Linked DNA regions of Homo sapiens. The protein of the gene in region 1 interacts with the protein of each later gene in a pairwise test. Each region holds a gene or a part of one and is shown in the gene's direction. Other genes may lie near its edges.

Region 1 (6,952 bases):
TTTAAAACTTCCTTATTAATGTAAAATGTAGAATAAATCAGAGATCAATATTTGAGCAACATACTATTTCGTTTTTGTTTATAGAAAAGTGAAAACTAAAATTGAATGAAAGCTTGACTTTAGCCAAATAATCAAGAAAAGTTTTGTGTCACTTTTCCGTAACAGCCATTTTTTTTTCCCTGTAATAGCCACTTTTTCTTTCTTTTTAAGACACTTAGACTTATGATTTTTTTTTTTTTTTGAGATGGAGTGTCTCGCTCTGTTGCCCAGGCTGGAGTGCAGTGGTGTGATCTTGGCTCCTTGCAACCTCCGCCTCCTGGGTTCAAGCGATTCTCCTGCCTCAGCCTCCCCAGTAGCTGGGATTATAGGCACGTGGTGCCACACCCAGCTAATTTTTGTATTTTTAGTAGAGATGGGGTTTCACCATGTTGCCCAGGCTGGTCTTGAACTCCTGACCTCAGGTGATCCACCCACCTTGGCCTCCCAAAGTGCTGGGATTACCGGTGTGAGCTACTGTGCCCGGCCTTGATCGTTTTTTTAAAGAGGAAACTCTTAAATGAAAAACTCCTACACTACAGGATTTATGAATGACCGCTTGTGTGGTCAAGGTACTTATTTGTCCGCTGATTGTCCAATTTGGAAATTATTCATGCCTTTCTTTCCTGATGGCTGGTTTGTTTGTAAGAAACCATTGTTTAAAATTTCATGGAAAATTCTAATAAAAACTGATCAGCTGGAACTACGCTGGTTCAAATTCAGTCTTCTTATTTTAAAATTTTATTTATTTATTTAAGATTAGGTCTCACTCTGTCACCCAGGCTGGAGTGCAGTGGCACTATCATGGCTCACTGCAGCCTCGACCTTCTGGGCTCAAGCAGTCCTCCCACCTCAGCCTCTCGAGTAGCTGGGACCACAGGCGTGTGCCACCACACCCAGCTAATGTTTGTATTTTTTTATAGAGATGGCATTTTGAGGCAGGGAGCAGTGGCTCACGAGCCTGTAGTCCCAGCACTTTGGGAGGCCGAGGTGGATGGATCACTTGAGGTCAGGAGTTTGAGAGATGGGTTTTTGCTGTGTTGCCCTGGCTGATCTTAAACTCCTGAGCTCAAGCGATCCACCCGCCTTGGCCTCCCAAAGTGCTGGGAGTACAGGCGTGAGCCACTGCACCCAGCATCAGCCTTCTTATTCTGTCATCCCTTGTCAACCTCTGAGATGCCTTCAAGGAACCTCTTAAGGTATCCCAGAACACCTTTTCTAAGGGACCTTTTTTTAAGTAATGTGCATTAACCTCTTTTCTAGATAGTGCTGGATACACTAGGAAGAGAAAAGCAAAACGATAGTGCCAGAGGCTAAGGGAACCTGAAAAATCAAATAGTTGCCTTTTGCTACTTGCTAACAGCCTAGTGAAGATTTGGTAGAAGTAGTATTTGGACCTTTTTAAAATTTTTTTTAGTGTCAATGGGTTTACATAATTCATCTATTTCCTATTCCATATTGCCATGGAGCATAGTGTAGATCATCTAGACTTAGCTGTATGCAGCTTTTCTACTAGAGTTATTAGTGTCATCCTCAAGGTAACAGGCACTAATAATTAGAACTCTCCGTCTTCTTTTTTTTGGTATCTCCCTACACTCCTGACTCTTATATAGAACAAAGAACTTTGAGTCTGGCAAGGCTTATAAGACAACATGGGGAGATGGTGGAGAAAACTCACCTTGCAATGTAGTATCTAAACAGCCAGGCCCGGTGACAAATGGTCAGCTTCAGCAACCAACAACGGGAGCAGCCAGTGGTGGATACATTAAACGGTATGCCAACTCCTCCTGATATTCCTGTACCTTTCTTAATGAATGGTTCACTTAGGAGATGAGTTTAGCAGTACATGACCCCTAATAAAACAAATAAAAATTGTATTTATTCCATTTTTAAAATGCATTTAAAAATCTGCCCACTGACAAAATGTGGGTTTTTTTTATTTGTTGTTTTGTTTTGAGACAGAGTCTTGCTGTGTTGCCCAGGCTGGAGTGCAGTGGCGTGATCTCAGCTCACTGCAACCTCTGCCTCCCAGGTTCAAGTTATTCTCCTGCCTCAGCCTTCCGAGTAGCTGGGACTACAGGTGTGCGCCACCACGCCCAGCTAATTTTTGTATTTTTAGTAGAGACAGGGTTTCACCATGTTGACCAGGCTGGTCTTGGACTCCTGACCTCAGGTGATCCACCTGCCTCGGCCTCCCAAAGTGCTGGGATTACAGGCATAAGCTACCACACCTGGCCAGACAAAATGTTGACTGTGGTGGTTGACCTTGGGTGATGGAATTAACTTTTCTTTATACTTTTCAGTACTTTCCAAATTATTGAACTAGACATATTTTACTTTTATATATAGAAAAAAATAGGTTTTAAAATGTGTCATCTAGAACAAGGGTCAGCTAGATTCCTGTAAGAAGATCTGTAACGAGCCAGAGAGTTAATATTTCAGACTTTTCAGGCCATACAGTCCCTTGCAATTACTCAACTCTGTTGTAGGGTTAAAGCAGGCATAAACAATATGTAAACAAATGAGCACAGCTGTGTTTGAATAACACTTGATTTACAAAATCATATGGTGGCCAGATTTGGTCCTTGGGCCGTAGTTTTCCAACCTCTCTCTTAGGGCAGTGCTTCTTTAGATAGACTTAACTGTGCATTAGAACCACTTGAGGGGCTTATTAAACCGTAGGTTTCTGGGATGCACTTACAGTTTCTGATTGAGTAGGTCTGGAATGGAGTGTGAGAATTAGCATTCTCATGTCTAACAGCTTCCCAGGTGATGCTGGGAATTAAGCTTTGAGAAACACTGTTTCAGAGTTTCTTTCTTTTCTTACATGGCTTTAAGATACTGTGCTCTCTTTGATGAGTCTCCCAGTTTTTATTATAGAATGTTTCCCAGGAATGGTAACCTATATTCTTTTGGATCTTATACTTGCTGAGAGTCATTTTGGTTACTTACTTTTGTGAAAAGTAAATCCAGACTTTTATTTAAATTCAACAAAACCTATGGAATTAACTGTCTTCTTGTGATAGCATAACTAATGATGCCAGAGAAGATGAAATGGAAGAGAACCTGACTCAAGTGGGCAGTATCCTGGGAAATCTAAAAGACATGGCCCTGAACATAGGCAATGAGATTGATGCTCAAAATCCACAAATAAAACGAATCACAGACAAGGTAAAAGCTTTTTATTGCCACAAGAAAATGAGACACCCAGTTCAGTGTTTCAGTAATAGACATCTGTGCTAGATACTGTGGGGGACACGGTAGAATAAGCTCCTGTCCTCATAGGTCTTAATTCTGATGAGGTGGTGGTTCTAACACATAAAACAAGAGCCAAGTCCTCCCTGTCATGGTAGTTGGTGCATTTTGAAACCAGAGTTTTGGAATATAGTAGTTTTACTTAAACCTTCACACATGAAGCTTAGTATCTACTTTAGCTTTTGAGCGTGTTTTTTTCTCTCCCAAATGAGTTTTATTTTGTTAACTAATTTTTTAATTGAGAATGGGGTCTTGCTCTGTCGCCTAGGGTAGTGTGGTGGTACAATCACAGCTCACTGCAGCCTGCCTCCTAGGCTAAAGCGTTCCTCCCACATCAGCCTATTTTGTTAACTAAAAATAAATTAAGTTCCTGAATCCTCATCTCATGAAAGAGTCCGTAGGTGAAAATCTGTTCTGCAGAATAGTTCTTATGGAGTGGACACACGAAATAGAGTCATGTGAGTGAAAGAAAGTTGTGATTCTTTTTTTTCCCCCTTAACTTTACATGATATAAATATAGTGAAAGCGAAATTGTTTTCAGTGTTTTGATGTGTCACATGTAAAGTCATACCTTGGCCAACCGTGGTAGCTCACACCTGTAATCTCAACACTTTGAGAGGCGGAGGCAGGAGGATTGCTTGAGCTCAGGAGTTTGAGACCAGAGCAAGACCTCGACTCTACTAAAAAAATTTAAAAATTGACCAGGCATGGTGGCATGTGCCTATTGTCCCAGTTACTCGGGAGGCTGAGGCAGAAGGATTGCTTGAGTGTAGGAGTTGAAGGCTGCAGTGAGCTGTGATTGCACCATTGCATTCCAGCCTGGGCAACAGAGTGAGACCCTTTCTCAAAAAGAAAGGAAAAAAAGAAAGTCATACCTCATTAAAATCTCAGTGAACTTTAGGGTGAGTTTTTAAGCTTGGCTCTCTGTTAAATCACTTTTGATGGATTTAATTGAAACAGTGGTTCACAAGATGCTTTAAATGCTGCAGTCTGGGTTTAGGCTATATTTACCTGTCATTTTAATTCAGATGTTGGTGAGGATGGTAATAGATTCGTTTCAAAGATCTTTGGAAAGGTTATTTCAGTCTCTCCAGGTTAGACTTAGGGTGTCTGAATCCAGATGAGATTCTATGATTCAGTTCAGAGGACTCACACAAGGTCCAGATCTTTAACAGAGAAGAGCACTCTTTCATATTTCATTGCATCAAAAAATGCCATTGATTACAGGATGCATCCCAGTTTCAGGCATGTTAAACTATGAAAAAATGCGTTATAGAATTTATGAAATATTGGCAAGGTCTTATATGTTACACCTTTGTCATGTTTATATACCAGGGGTTTTCCAAATGAATTTCATATTCTGTTACTTCTTGCCCAACATGAGTTTTGTAATGTAACTTCACGTGGTTTCTTGGATTTTCTTGGTGTGTCAGTTACTCCAAGTGTAAAAAGTTTAATTTTTATTAGAGTTACTTACCTTGTAAAGCTGATATCTTTCTTGTTTTTCAGGCTGACACCAACAGAGATCGTATTGATATTGCCAATGCCAGAGCAAAGAAACTCATTGACAGCTAAAGCTACTGCTGTTCTTCTTTATCATTTATTCACTTCCGTAGCTCCTCCTTGAAAGTTATTACCTTTTCAGAGTTTAAGTTTTCGGTTCCACGCTCTTCTAATTGGGAGATAATATGGAAGAAGGGCCAGAGCAGTTACAGCCCTCCTTCTTTTTTGTTTTCTGTTGAGGGCCGACTGCTGCTCTGCCTTCCTTCTAGTATTTTCTTTCTCAATTCATACGCTTAGATTGGTTTTCATATGTCATGTTTAGTGTTTTCATCCTCCTCATATACTTCAGCAGGTTCTTTTGCTTTCAAGATTTGGAAGCATTGCCAAAGACAGCCATGAAGAAGGAAGCTGTAGAGGTGTTTTTTGTTGTTGTTTATTTTTGCTTTTGTGGTTGAGGGAAGGACAAGAGATAAGAGGTTGTTACCTCAGTAAAAACCTTCAGGCCACAAAGCAAAAAGTTGCATAGCCACAACGAAGATCTAGTTGGATATAGTTTTTGATTTAAGTTGCAGTTATAGCCAATTTAGGCTAATGCTTGGTTTTGGAGCTTTTATACACAACGTTTTTGTTAGGCATCACAGTTTTGCAACCTCTGCTCCAAAGAGAAAAATAGAATGAGTTTTCTTTCTTTTTTTTTTTTTTGGAGTCAGAGTCTCGCTCTCTTGTCCAGGCTGGAGTGCAATAGCGCGATCTGGGCTCACTGCAACCTCCGCCTCCCTGGTTCAAGCAATTCTCCTGCCTTGCCTCCTGAGTAGCTGGGATTACAGGCGTGTGTCACCACGCTCGGCTAATTTTTGTATTTTTAGTAGAGACAGGGTTTCACCATGTCAAGCTGGTCTTGGACTCCTGACGTCGTGATCCACCCGCCTTGGCCTCCCAAAGTACTGGGATTACAGGCGTGAGCCACTGTGCCTGGCTGAGTTTTCTTAAAGTGAGCTTAATTTCTGAACTCTTAGTGATTCATATATGTACATAAATCTGTGATCCCATTTCTTATTGCACCATTCAGGAACACTTTATATAAATGAGTGGCTTTTTATTTCATATTATTAGTAGTATCATGGTTCCATTACAGGCCTATTAACATCATACATTGTCATTAGTCTTTGAAGAAAAAATATGTAAATATATATGTGTAACATGAGAATTTCTCTCTAAAGCAGGGCTTAAAATTTTTTGGAAAAGTTTGACAAAGCATACCACATGAATTCAGATTTACCTCAATGCTAAGAATTATGTTTAGTTAGGAAAAAGGAAAGTCATTTTGACCTCAGGTAGAAAAATAGATTGCTTTGAGTTTTATGTAGCTTTAGACTTTAAAAAGTTAGAATTTATTCTGTAACTAAAAATTATTTGAAAAAATTATGCCTCTGGTTTAATTATTGGTGATTACACACTCTTTCTCTTACCCTTGTGTATTGAACTATGTCCATAATCAAGTTGATGTGGATCCTGAAAAGTGTTATGAACATCTGATTGGTATTTGTCACATTTATTTTAAAATTAGCATCTGAACACTTCAAAGCTGTCAGTGTGTATTGGTTTCACCAATAACCACTGCTTGATCCTTACAATTAAATTTTTTAACTAACTAATGGTATTGTTCTTTCAAATAGGTAACATGTTTCTATGACTGTTATTTGGGGGAAAATAGTTTCATCAGCTCTCATTTAACAAATTAATAAAGCAAAGATCCATACATCAAGAAACACTACAGCAGGAAGCTGCCTTTAGCATCTTTCCAGTATTTATTGAAAATATTGATGGGACTTAAACTTACCTTGCTAAAAATTTATTGTGAGGTTCATTTTAATCATTACTAGTCTTACTCACTTGAGCTTAAATACACTAGTGACTGGAAGGGTAATGGTTCTGTGTGAGAACTACAACTCACTGGAGAAGATACAGTTAATGTGGGAGCTTTCAAAGGCTAAAGAGGAAAATATTTAAATAAAGTGAGATGCAACTACACCCTCTGTAATAGAAATGCTCCATGTCAAAATGAGTGGTTTGGCAGGGATGGTAAATATGTAAAGTAAGGTGTAAAACGGAGGATTGTGCTTTACCTAAATGCCTTTCCTAAAACCATTTACCATAA
Region 2 (7,027 bases), on another chromosome or scaffold:
TTCTGACATCAAGTGATCCACCCACCTCAGCCTCCCAAAGTGCTGGGATTACAGGCATGAGCCACAACGCCTAGTCGGCCTCCATTGTTTTTGATAAGAAGTCTGCTGTCATTCAACTTGTTTTCCCCTATAAAAAAGGTGTTATTCTCTAGACACTTTCATAATTTTTTTCTTTTAGTTTCAAAAGTTTAATTATAATGTGGCTTGGATAGATATATTTGGTTTTAAGCTATTTGAGTTTCCCTAAACTTACAGAATCTGTAGGTTTATGTTTCTTGTCAAATTTGAGAATCATTTAGCAGTTATTTCTTCAAGTACTTTTTCAGCTTCCTTTTTTTTTTTTTTTTTTTTTTTGAGACCGAGTCTTGCTCTGTCGCCCAGGCGTGCCAGTTTAATGGCGCAATCTTGTCTCACTGCAACCTTTGCCTCCCAGGTTCAAGCAATTCTCCTGTCTCAGCCTCCCAAGTAGCTGGGACTACAGGTGCTTGCCACCACACCTGGCTAATTTTTGTATTTTTAGTACAGACAAGGTTTCGCCATGTTGACCAGGCTGGTCTTGAACTCTTGACCTCAAGTGGTTCGCCTGCCTTGGCCTCCCACAGTGCTGGGATTACAGGCGTGAGCCACCATGCCCAGCCAGCCCTTTTCTCTTTCTCCTCCCCTTCTAGAACACAGATGCCACAAAAGTGAGACTGTTTTATTATCCCATGGGTCCTTGATGCTCTGTTCCTTTTTGTCAGTTTGTCTTCTCTCTGTTGTTCCTGTTGTTGTCTTCCATTTAGTGCTTCTTTCCTCTGTCCCTTTCATCCTGCTGTTGAGCCCACCCACTTTTTATGTATGGTACTGTTTTTTTTTTTCAGTTCTGAAATTTTTATTTGTTTTTACTTTATATCTTTTTTCCTGTGGCTTCCTTTTTCTTTGTGGATGCTTTCCATTTTTCCATTAGCTTCAGGTGTTATTGTACTTGCTTTTTGGAGCATTTTTATGAGGGCTTCTTTAAAATCTTCGTGGGATATTTTGGACATTTCCGTCATCTGGAACCATCATCTGTTAATGGTCTTTTTTCATTTAGCTTGAGATCTTCCTGTGTTTTTGGTATTACAAGTCATTTCTGATTGAAAACAGGGCATTTGCACATTAGGTTATGAGACTGGGTCTTGTTTAAACGTTCTCTTTTCAGTTGGCCTTCTTTGACATTCCTCTGGCTGGGGAAGGTGGGGATGTTACCTCATTACTGCCAGGTGGAGGTAGAAGTGTCAGCTTTCCACCAGGTCTCTGTTGACACCTGAGGGGCCTAGTCAGCCCTGGGCAGAAGTGGCATCCCCTCTCCTTATCTGTTTCTGCCAGCACAGTGCTGGTTTGTTCTTGGTATGGTGAGAGTCTTCACCCTCCACTAGACCTCTTCTGACAGCACACCAGCTGGAGAAAGAAGGGGAACCTCTTTCCTGCTTGACAGAGACAGGATGCAGGCTCCCAGTGTGGTCTGCACTGCCTTAGTGTCAGGGGGTTGGGTGGGGATCAAGCCTCAGCTCCCTATTTGGCCTTCTCTGAAGCTCCTAAGCAGAGGTATTGGGGTGCTTCTTACAGTCTTTCAAGAATGGACTTTAGGACTCCTTCTTCAGCCTTTGATGATGTAAATGGAGTTAGGGCCTCAGTTTTTCTGTGATATTTGGCTGGAGTAGAGCAGTTATTGTCTAAGTGTTTTCTCTCTTGCTGGGCTGCCCCTTTTCTAGTCCTTTGGCCAGAGAGAGCAGGCTTTTGTCTCTTCTCTTTTTATCTGTGCATACTGGCATTTCTGGGTTGCTGGTTCTTCAGTTTCATGCCATGGATATAGGAAGGGAAAAGAAAACTGAGGGAACCCACTACCACGTTTTCCCTTGGGAAACGTTTGTTTTTTAGAAAATGACCTGGGCTTTTAGTAGTGCTTAGTGGGAGGATTAGGGGAAAGGATGTTTACTCCATCTTATTGGAAGCAGAATTCTTCTGAGCTATTTTTAACTGGTTAAGACTTCATGTATTTAATGGTCTTGTCTAGTAAAATTTCTACTATATGGTATTCGGATAAAATAATATATTTCATAGCTAAACAAACATAAGATACATAATTATTTTCTAAAGGACAACAGATGAGAATGACTTTGCCTGATATAAGAGGGTAAATCTTTTAAATTTAACTCTGCGTTCTGTGCCTAGGTTGGGGCAAACACAATGGATAATCCTTTGTTGAAATACAGTGCAAAGGATTACTTCTTCAAAGCTGCCCTCTGCCACTTCATAGTAGACGAGTTGAATGCCAAGGTAAGGAGTTCTTCAGCATTGATTGACTGATTTCACCCATAAGAATACGTACACATTCTCTCTTGTTCTTGGTATCATTTCATTTTGATGTTAGTACCAAGAATAAACGGGTACATTAAAAATAAGTATTATTCTGTGGTATGTGTCCCAGTTGTAATCTTTTAACAGCTGTCAAAGCTGTTCTCAAAAGTTACCTGATAGTTTATAGCCATACCACCCTGAACACACCCAATCTCGTCTGATCTCAGAAGCTAAGCAGTGTAGAGCCTGGTACTTGAATGGGGGGCACTGCCTGGGAATATTTAGTGCTATAGGCTTAAATATATGTATATGTTCACTGGTAGCCACCATTTTTTTTTCAGTAGTTTTGCTTTAAAGAAATTAAGGGGGCCAGGCGTGGTGGCTCACATCTGTAAACCCAGCATTTTGGGAGGCCAAGTGGGGTGGAGCACCTGAGGTCAGGAGTTTGAGACCAGCCTGGTCAAAATGGTGAAACCCCGTTTCTACTAAAAATATAAAAAAATTAGCTGGGTGTGGTGGCGGGTGCCTGTAAGTCCAGCTACTTGAGAGGCTGAGGCAGGAGAATCACTTGAACCTGTGAGGCAGAGGTTGCAGTGAGCTGAGATCGCACCACTGCACTCCAGCCTGGGTGACAGAGTAAGAGTCCGTCTCAAAAAAAAAAAAGAAAGAAATTAAGGAACTAAGGGAGGAGACAATAAGAGTAGGATAATATCCATTTAAAAAACAACCAAAACAACAGGCAAGCTCAGAAATGGTGTTGGAGTGAGGACTGGGAAGAAGTTGAAAAGCACAGTGAGCACTGGGAGCCAAGAGGCAAAAAGACAGGCAGCCTTGGCATGGCCAGTGTCTGGAGTTGGAAGAGCAGAACTAAAGCCAGTAAGAGAAACTGTTCTTTCTGTCAGCTTCGAGCAGGAAGCTAAATGTAATTTATTTGGAATCTGGACTGTATTAAGAACGTCTCCATTTAATGGATGGATACAGATACCTGGTCTGTGAGTGTTTAAGAATTCATTTTCATTTACAATGTCTTCTCAGCAGCAGCCTAACTCAGAAAAAAGTAGTTTAGAAATTATTCTTTATTGAAATGGAAAATTCAGAATAGAAAGATTTTCTATGTTGATTCTGCTTTTGAGTTTAACTACATACTTTTTCAACACTTAATAGGATATAGGTAGATCTTATTTGAAGCTGATAGAATGTTGAAAGCTTTGTTTGTTTAGTAAGTCTGAAATTGATGAGTGGTTTTTCTCTCTCAGCTTGCTCTTGAGAAATATGAGGAAATGTTTCCAGCATTTACTGATTCAAGAGAATGTAAATTATTGAAAGTAAGTAATATTAGAACTTTGAAGAAAAATGCTTTTGTTCTGTTAGGTGACAACACCTAAGTGGGATTGGGTATGAAGTGAAGTTTTAATCTATAAAGTCTGCTAACTGAGGGGCCCTGGTACTTTCCTGCTTTCGTATTATAGGTGTTCAAATGCAATTAAGGTCAGAAACATGTAGTTGTGTTCTGAAATAGGCACCTGAGAAATGTTACTACAGAAGCTAGATCCCTAACTTGGCTCTTGACTTGTATATGAGTATTTCCTCAGTTTTGTGCAATATTTGGCAACATTGGTATTATACTTAAAGTATATATTTAGAAATGGGACTTCATCTTACAGAACTGTTTTTTAAAATATTTTTATGCTACCAGAAACTCCTAGAAGCTCATGAAGAACAGAACAGTGAAGCTTACACTGAAGCAGTAAGTTATGCTTTTGGGACATGGTACATTATTTGAAGATTTAAGTTAAAGAAACTTCTTTTCCTTTTCATTATGTGAATTCTAAACATTTATTTGAACATGACTCCAGCATACCTTAAGTTGTATTTTCCAAACGTCACCTTTTATATATCACACAAATTAAACAGTTCCATTAGCCATGCTGAGATTCGACTTACACTCAAAACTAATTTAGCTGTGAGACTAGTTCAGGAGCAAATATTCCATTTATATTCTTATAATTTGCTGTTTTAATTTTTTCTTTTGAAAATAATCTGACCCATAAATAAGTATAAAGTAAAATTAGTTAAGGCCAGGCACGGCGTCTCACACCTGTAATCCTGGCACTTTCGGAGGCCGAGGCAGGCAGATCATGAGTCAGGAAATTGAGACCATCCTCGCCAACATGGTGAAACCCCGTCTCTACTAAAAATATAAAAATTAGCCAGGCATGCTGGCACACGCCTGTAGTCCCAGCTACTCGGGAGGCTGAGGCAGGAGAATCGCTTGAACCCGGGAGGCAGAGGTTGCAGTGAGCTGAGATTGCACCACTGCACTCCAGCCTGGTGACAGAGCGAGACTCTGTCTCAAAAAAAAAAAGAAAAAAAAAATTAAATATAATTTAAAATATAAAAACTAAGTAGTGAGAATTTGCTGTATTTGTGGCATGAAATAAATGGAAGGTGGCCAGGCACGGTGGCTCACACCTATAATCCTAGCACTTTGGGAGGCCAAGGCGGGTGGATCACCTGAGATCAGGAGTTTGAGACCAGCTTGGCCAACATGGCAAAACACCATCTTTACTAAAAATACAAAAATTAGCCAGGCATGGTGGAGTGTGCCTGTAATACCAGCTACTCGGGAGGCTGAGGCAGGAGAATCTCTTGAACCCAGGAGGTGGAGGTTGCAGTGAGCCAAGATCACGCCATTGCATTCCAGCCTGGGCAACAAGAGTGAAACTCCATCTCAAAAATAAATAAATAAATAATAAATATATATATATATTAAAAATATGAGGGTTTTTTTCTTTATACTTTTTGTTTTTCCATCTTTTGCCATCTCATGTTTAGAATCAAGCAAAAAAAAATGTTTTTATATATTTTGAAACAGATCCTCACTCTGTCACTCAGGCTGGAGTGCTGTGGTGTGATCACGGCTCACTGCACCCTCAACCTCCTGGGTTCAGGTGATCCTCCCACCTGAGACTCCTAAGTACCTGGGACTACAGGTGCACACCACCACCCCCAGCTAATTTTTTTTTTTTTTTTTGCATTTTTTGTTGAGACAAGGTTTCACCATGTTGCCCAGGCTGGTCTCTTAACTCCTGGGCTTAAGCTATCCACCTGCCTTGGCCTCCCAGACTTCAAGGATTACAGGCATGAGCCACTACATCCAGCCTCAAGCAAATTTCTCAGTAGCCTCCTGTAACATGTTCATCACAGCTCAGGAGTGATAGAGGAAAGGAATGTTTTCCTGTCTGACTTTTGCCTACCACATCATTTTCATCCTATTGTAATTTTATTTTTGGGTAATGCATTGAAATGTGTTAATTCCGCTTCCATACATATTCTAACTCTGTAATTAATGTTTTCCCATGTTCAGTGAGTATTAATTTTCCATATTCCTTTCAAATTTTTATACAATATCCAGTTACTTTTGCCACAATAATTATGACTGTTAATGAATTTTTTTCTTACACGTTTGAAAACAGAGAAATGTCAAGCCCAGGAACTTGTCACTAGTATCAAAATAGTAACAGGATAATGAAAAAATAAACAATTTTTTAATGAAGAAAGTTATAAACTGGAATGATTAATTTCAAATGATGAAGAAAGTTAGTAGATTATGGCTGTAAAGGTATAAACAGCTTGGGGTACTATTATTTTGTGTTTTTAATGTATTTACATGGGGTAATTCCTGTTCCTCTTTCCTTATACTAGGTGAAGGAATTTGACTCAATATCTCGCTTGGATCAGTGGCTGACCACCATGTTGCTTCGCATCAAAAAGTCCATCCAAGGGGATGGAGAAGGAGATGGAGACCTAAAATGAAATGTTTTTGTCTTTGTGGCATGCAGCTAACTCCTCTTTAGTTTTGTCTTAGGGTCAAGTGATCTTTATGGGATGCCTATTTAATGGCTTAATTTTGTTGCATATGAGCCAGACGGCCTGTGTATTGTTTAAGCTCGCCAAGTCTGTGTTGCTGTGAAATGAATGAAGGAGAGGCTCCTGTTCATCTTGTGGTAATGATGGGTTGTTTCATGCTTATCAGAACCCCCAGCGTTTTCTGAGAAGTACTTCAGAATCTCATTCCTCATATTTCATTGGTATTTGTGGAGCCTATGTTTAATGTTGCCACGTGTTTTTATGTCCTTTTTGTTGGACTTGAGTACTCAGCCCAGTTGTTCTCATAGATGCTTTGCATTTTCTCTGTGCTTTGGCATCTGAATATGTTCTTTAAATGTGTGTTTAGTTTAGGACAGTTACTAGGAATGAGTTTATAACTTCATTAGAAATCATTTCTATTTTTGTTATCCTGTGATTATTTTGATGGTGCTAGTGACTAGTTTCTTTGCTTTTTGTGTTGTTCCGTATGCTAACATGTGCATGGCAAAAATTTAGAATAGCCAGGGTCTGTAGGCATCACATTGTGAGGAAGGGAGCTTTCTGGAAGTACTTGCTTCATGTATGGATGAGTGTCAAAGTGAATTTGATTTGTACTTAGACACACGCGTTTACACACACACACATATCACAAGATCTGTTAGAAATGGAATTTTTCTCTTTTTCTGGAGATAGTTTTCACTTTTAGTTGGAGTGGAAATCCCTTTATATTTACATTGAAGTATTTTAATTGGCATAGCCTGCTCATTATTTTCATGTTTATACACTTTCCCACGTTGAGGTGGTGTGTTCTGTGCTGTGACTATAGAAATCTTGGTCA

The links. Proteins that work in one complex are often made in the same cells at the same time.
Region 2: the proteins of SNAP23 (region 1) and NAPB interact in binary tests that used the Homo sapiens proteins (3 or more experiments, as listed by UniProt).

Annotation. Positions count from the first base shown.
Region 1 is NC_000015.10:42,526,613-42,533,564, forward strand, and holds the end of SNAP23 (synaptosomal-associated protein 23), read left to right. Parts: intron 1-1,649; coding exon 1,650-1,808; exon of another isoform or gene 1,809-1,859; coding exon of another isoform or gene 1,860-1,889; intron 1,890-3,062; coding exon 3,063-3,207; intron 3,208-4,800; coding exon 4,801-4,866; 3' UTR 4,867-6,446; downstream 6,447-6,952. UniProt on the Homo sapiens protein: Essential component of the high affinity receptor for the general membrane fusion machinery and an important regulator of transport vesicle docking and fusion.
Region 2 is NC_000020.11:23,376,484-23,383,510, reverse strand, and holds part of NAPB (beta-soluble NSF attachment protein), read left to right. Parts: intron 1-2,193; coding exon 2,194-2,298; intron 2,299-3,575; coding exon 3,576-3,644; intron 3,645-4,015; coding exon 4,016-4,066; intron 4,067-6,024; coding exon 6,025-6,135; 3' UTR 6,136-7,027. UniProt on the Homo sapiens protein: Required for vesicular transport between the endoplasmic reticulum and the Golgi apparatus.